2 separate regions of the Homo sapiens genome follow, and region 2 is linked to region 1. The links come from fine-mapping of genetic effects on gene expression. A gene starts in region 1. The other region holds a variant in brackets. All regions are shown on one strand. Distances are from middle to middle. Region 1 holds the start of MED24 (mediator complex subunit 24). Region 2 holds the start of MIR6884 (microRNA 6884).

Region 1 (2,908 bases):
TCAAACAGATCAATCTAGAATCTTACTCTTTCATCTAGAAAGAGTAAGCTGACAATTGTACAACTGCACCCCAAATTGTGTTTGTTTGTTTCTTTCCTGAGACAGGGTCTCACTCTGTTGCTCTGGCTGGAGGGCAGTGGCAGGATCATGGCTCATTGCAGTCTCGACCTCCCAGGGCTCAGGTGATCCTCCCACCTCAGCCTTCCAAGTAGCTGGGACTACAGGGGCACCACCACGCAGGGGTAACTCTTTGTATTTTTGGGTAGAGACTGGGTTTTGCCATGTTACGCAGGCTGGTCTTGAACTCCTGGGCTCAAGCAATCCGCCTGCCTCAGCCTCCCACAATGCTGGGATTACAGCCATGAACCACCGGGGCCCAAATGCACTCCAAGTTTTTTACCCCCAGAACTCTCACTTCTTGGTGGGGGTTTGCGGGAAGCTTACCTGGGAACTAATGGCATACTTCAGGTAGGACAAGATGAGAGGATTGGGGGATGGTCCAATCATGGCCTGCTCTAGTAACGCATCTGCAAGAGGAATAGCAAAACACAACTGAGTGATTACAACTTCTCTGGGTTTATCCCTCCCATCTTTCTTTCCCAGTTCACTTGAGACCTGCCAGGTTGAGAATATCCCAGGTGGCTCCTTTAGGAAAGAATTTCTTCATGTTGATTGCCCATTGGTAGTCACTCCAGCGCTCCTTCCAGGCTTGCAAAATGGCTTGCTTCAGGTTGACCACCTTCATTATTTCACTCTGAGCAGGTGGCAGCGGTGGCGGCCAGCTTTGAGGTGAAAGAAATGGAGCTAAAGAAAAGGACATGAGGTTCTAAGGAGAACCGGGGAAGGCAGAATTAAATAGAAAGGAGAAGATGCGGGAAGATTTAAGCGAGACAGAGGAATTTGAAAGAAAAAGAGCTAAAGGGATAAAGTAAGATCCTGTCAGACTCTCTCCTCCTGAACCGCCCTTCCTTAAACTGGGGCACTAAGAAAGTATCGGCCGAGCGCAGTGGCTCGCACCTGTAATCCCAGCACTTCGGGAGGCAGAGGCGGGCGAATCACCGGAGGTCAGGAGTTCGAGACTAGCCTGACCAACATGGAGAAACCTCGTCTCCACTAAAAATACAAAATTAGCCGGGCTTGGTGGTGCATGCCTGTAATCCCAGCTACTCGGGAGGCTGAGGCAGTAGAATCGCTTGAACCCGGGAGGCGGAGGTTGTTGGGGTGAGCCGAGATCGCACCATTGCACTCCAGCCTGGGCAACAAGAGCAAAACTCCGTCTCTCAAATAAATGAATAAAGAAGTATCAAAGGGACTAATAGATTAAACAGGGCATCAAGGAGTTAAGGCAGTCCTGGTTGCCTAATTACGCCCTTAGCTCTAAAAGCGTCCCTTGGCCACCACCATTCCAAGTCCAGATTTGCTCCCTCATTTCCTCCACCTTCTCCAGCCCTGTAACTATACCTCCCAATTTCCTTTTCATCCACCACCTCCCCAAATTTAAGCCTACCGCACAATCCAGTTCTAGGTGGTAGGCATCGCCATTTTGGCACTTGTCAAGAAGCTCACTTTCTATTGGCTGGGAGTAACAAACGCCAACCAATAGAAATGCAGCAAGGAACGCCCCGCTGTCTTCTGGGAATGGTAGTTCCTTGGACTGAAACCGTATTTGTCTGCGCCGGCGAGGAAACTAAGGGACTCGTCTAGTCGGCCCGCATTGTTCTTCTCCTTTAAGGGAGGACATCCAGGAGCTGAGGCACTACAGAGACTCAGGGACTCGAGGGAGCTCGAAAGGCCGCTCACAACCCGGCGTCGCCCACGACGTCACTGTCGACCGGGCTTCTCCATCATATTCCGACACCCTTTCATTCGTTAGCCCCTAGTTAGTAGGTGCGGCAAGGGTGTGGCGTGGGGGCAAGGGTGTGGCGTTCAGCAATAAGGTCTTTCTCCTTTCCTGGGCTCTTTCTGTTCTCCTAAGCCCCTGGAGCTACCAGAGCTATTCTCATTTCCACAACTATATTCTAAAAGCGACACCGAGGTGCCTTAGTTGCACACATATCACCGTCCCCGAATCTTACAGTCCTATCAGAATCTCCAGGCCCTCCATACAGCTTGGATACAAGGGAAAGTAAAGAGGAAACTAAGGTGAAGGTGATCAAAATCAAAGGAATTCTGAGAAACTGTCACAACTAAGAGGGCTAAGGAGACCTGATGACTAAATGTAATGTGGTTTTCTGAATGCGATCATGGAAGAGAAAAAGAATACTGGGTAAAAACTAAGGAAATCTAAATAAAGGGTGGACTTTAATTAATAATAATGTATCAATATTAGTTCATTAGTTGTTACAAATGCATAATACTAATGCTAAGATGTTAATAAAAAGAGAAATTGGGTGCAGAATATGTGGGGACCCTCTATTACCTTCCATTTTTTTCCTGTAAATTAAAAACTTGTTTTTTTAAGTTTCTTGTTGTTGTTGTTGTTGTTGTTGTTTAAATCTTGCTTATCCCAAAGATCCATATATAAATTATGCCCAGGGCTTTGGCCATAGCCTTTCCTTCCCCCAGTGAGAAACCCGAAAGCAAATGTTACCCACCTCTGGAGGCTCCAATGTCTGAGCCTTCTTATGCATAGCCCTCATCCCTCCCCATGCTATGGACTGGTCATCCCTAACATTTACAACCAGGAATAAGAGTAAATTACTCGGGAGGCTGAGAAAGGAGGATCACTTGAGCTCGGGAGTTCAAATCCAGCCTGGGCAACATAATGAGACTCTCAGCTCTACCAAAATACATAAATAAATAAACATGGAGGCCTTTAGCCAGGGCCCAATATCCTAGTTCACAAGTTCAAGCTCAATCTGTATTCCTCAACAAAGATTCTTTTTTTTTTTTTTTTTGAGATGGAGGC
Region 2 (2,908 bases), 27 kb before region 1:
TCTTTTGGGAGCTAGTTGTCTAGAACTTGAGTCTCTGCGGGCAGACCCTGTTTAGGGTCTGCATTTCTGACAACACAGCAGGTGCTGGCATATAAACGCTTCTGCCACAGAGACACAGTACATGTTTGCTGAGTCAGATGAGTGAATGCATGAATAGGAAAGTGAGTGAGTGATCAAGTAGCGTGTTTGCGAAGGTCAGAAAAGAGAGGGGTGCTTGTTATTGGATGTGCTGACTTCTCACAACACACTTGAAGGGTCTGAGAAGGGAAGGCAGGTTACCGACCTCTCATTGTAGAACTGCAGGGTGTTCTCACTAAACAGTGGCCCTGCCAGCTGGCGGATCATCTGCAGCGACTTCTCACGCTCATCCAGCCCCAGCATCCGGACGTGGGCCACAAGCCAAGCCACAGCACACACCGCCAGACTGCATACCTTCCCTTTGATGTTATCAGTGATTTTCTAGGGGAGACGGAAAGGTGATGGGCTACCATCTATCTCCCTTTCTTGAGCCAACATCACCTTCTCAGCCTCTGCGGGCAGCTAAGTGCAGCGGGTGGAGTCCCGGGCCACATTCCACACCTCTCTCCACAAGTTTGATCTTCCCAGAGCTACCTGGGCCAGAGGGAGTAGCTAAGACAACGATTACACAAAATATCAATATCAAAACATGAGCTCCTGGATTAAAGGTCTTCTTGCCCTTACGAAATATAACAAGTCATCACTGGCTGGCTCTGTGTCTCAGGGGAGCAAACGCTGCTGGGAAGGCGGGGCTACCTGGATGGACTCGAAGGCCAGGACCCCATTCTCCCAGGCATTGAGGATTTCCAAGATGGCGGCTGAGATGCTGAGACAGGCCTCATGCCACTTCATCTGCCTGCGGGTGTGCAGAGAAGTCAGCACAGGGGAGCAAGGAACGGGCTCAGGGAGCGGGTCTTGACCCTGCCCCCACCGCCACCCTTGGAGTGGGCGCCCGGGCCACTGACACTAGCTTCATCTCCGAGGAGTTGTTGAGCAGGGCCACCAGGGACTCCACTTTGGTGGAGTCGGGGCGGAAGCAGGGGTGGTCAGGGTTCAGGATCTTGCCCTCCTCAGGCATGCAGGTCTGCATCCAGGTCTCGAAGAAGGGCACCTCAGCTCCTGTGCGCGACTCGGACAGAATCACCTGGGAAAGGGGAAGGGGGGCACCAGCCGAGTGGGGAGGGCGCGGCGCCTGCCAGCGCTGGACCTGGGGCTGCACTGTTTCCCGCCAGGCTGCTGCTCCAGCCCAGCCCAAAGACTGGGGACGAACTGGTCTAAGGGAGCCAGACGGGGGCAATGCTGCCACCTAGTGGTCAATGTGAACATAGGGCTGAAGGTGCCTCTACGGACTCCAGCCCGGG[T/TG]GGGCACCTGGTTTCTGAGGCCCACAGAACTAACTGGCTGAGAGGCTGCGGGGGCGCAGGCAGTGAGGTGGGGAGAGTTCCGGGTTACCTCCTTCCCTTGAGCCCCCGTCCCGGTCGCTCCCCTCTCTCACCTCTGAACCATAGGTCTGGGCCACATGGCACAGCATGAGGAAGGAGATGTCAAACAGCAGGGCCCGGACGGAGGCCGGTTTGGCTGTGGAAGGACGGGAAGGCTGAGCTCCCAGACGAGGGCAGGGGGGAGCCCGTGTCTGGGTTGACAGGGATCGGGATTTGCCTCTAGGAAGGTCAGGGACCAAGTGGCTCCTTCAAAGCTCTGAGGCTCAGAATCCTTTTCTTGAGTCTCAACTGGAACATCATCCCTTCCTTGAGACCAAAGACCCCCAGCACCCTCTCCTGGCATACCTAACCAAGTCGTAAAGGGATGAGGGGGGGAAGGAGACACAGGGATGGTCTGGGAAGAATCCTTTTCCAGCATTATCCACTTTCAAGCTCTGTGGAAGCTTCCATTGGTCATGGCTCTGAGGAGGGAGCACAGCCTCCCCCTGTTGAGCTGGGGAGCCCTCCTCCCTCCCACACTCTCCCGCCACACCCCTCCTCAGGGCCCACTGGGCCTGCGGATGCACAGGGCTGACTTACTGCTTTCTTCGCTGCCATAGGTTGTGAATTCATTCAAACTGAAAGGAATGGAGACAGGCTGCATTGACCAGGGCATGAGCTGAGCAGTAGCTGGGCGCTGGGGCTACACATGTTCAGAGAGCGATAGCTAGAGTCTGAGTTACTGGTTAAACTTAAAATGAGACACATTGCTATAGAAAAAAGGTTTTTGTGGTTTTTGTTTTTTGTTTTTTTTTTGTTTTTTTTGAGAAAGAGTCTCGCTCTGTCACCCAGGCTGGAGTGCAGTGGCACAATCTCAGCTCACTGCAACCTCCGCCTCTGTTCAAGCAATTCTTCTGCCTCAGTCTCCCAAGTAGCTGGGATTACAGGTGCCCGCCACCACACCCGGCTAATTTTTTGTATTTTTAGTAGAGACAGGGTTTCACCAAGTTGGCCAGGCCGGTCTTGAACTCCTGACCTCAGGTGATCCGCCCACCTTGGCCTCCCTAAGTGCTAGGATTACAGGCGTGAGCCACCGCACCCGGCCAGAAGGATTTTTATTGTTAGAAGATTTCCAAGGCCTAGAGAATGGCTCACTGAATGGAACCATGTTCTATATATGTCAAATTCCAGGGCAATCAAAAAAGGCAACAGAATTTGAGAGCCCCTTATTAATAACTGGGCATACTTGGAATTCCTCCATGCCCAATGTTCAACACCTCAACCCTTACCCTCATCTCTTTACCAAACATGTCCACTCCATCCTCAGCTGAAGAGAAAGGAACACTTAGGTCGTGAGAACAGGCCCTTCCTCCAAGATCTCCAGCCAGGATGCTCTGCCTAGGCCCGTGGGTCTCTGGATGAGACCCAGACCCAGGCACCTGACTCCTACCCTGCTACCTCCTCCCAACGCG

Evidence for each region.
Region 2: its variant is fine-mapped to the expression of MED24 in sigmoid colon (GTEx, PIP 0.97).

The regions. Positions count from the first base shown.
Region 1 is chr17:40,052,854-40,055,761 of GRCh38, forward strand. MED24 (mediator complex subunit 24) reads right to left here and starts at 1,555. Exons shown (of 26, transcript NM_014815.4): 1 at 1,508-1,555; 2 at 616-782; 3 at 445-527. The coding sequence starts at 745. RefSeq lists an enhancer at 1,755-1,814.
Region 2 is chr17:40,025,873-40,028,780 of GRCh38, forward strand. MED24 (mediator complex subunit 24) reads right to left here. Exons shown (of 26, transcript NM_014815.4): 15 at 2,037-2,074; 16 at 1,511-1,593; 17 at 984-1,162; 18 at 775-874; 19 at 284-459. MIR6884 (microRNA 6884) reads right to left here and starts at 537; the gene lies at 460-537. It overlaps SNORD124 (small nucleolar RNA, C/D box 124), which reads right to left and starts at 1,773; the gene lies at 1,670-1,773. RefSeq lists an enhancer at 775-1,685. The variant T/TG (reference allele first, on the strand shown) is at 1,380.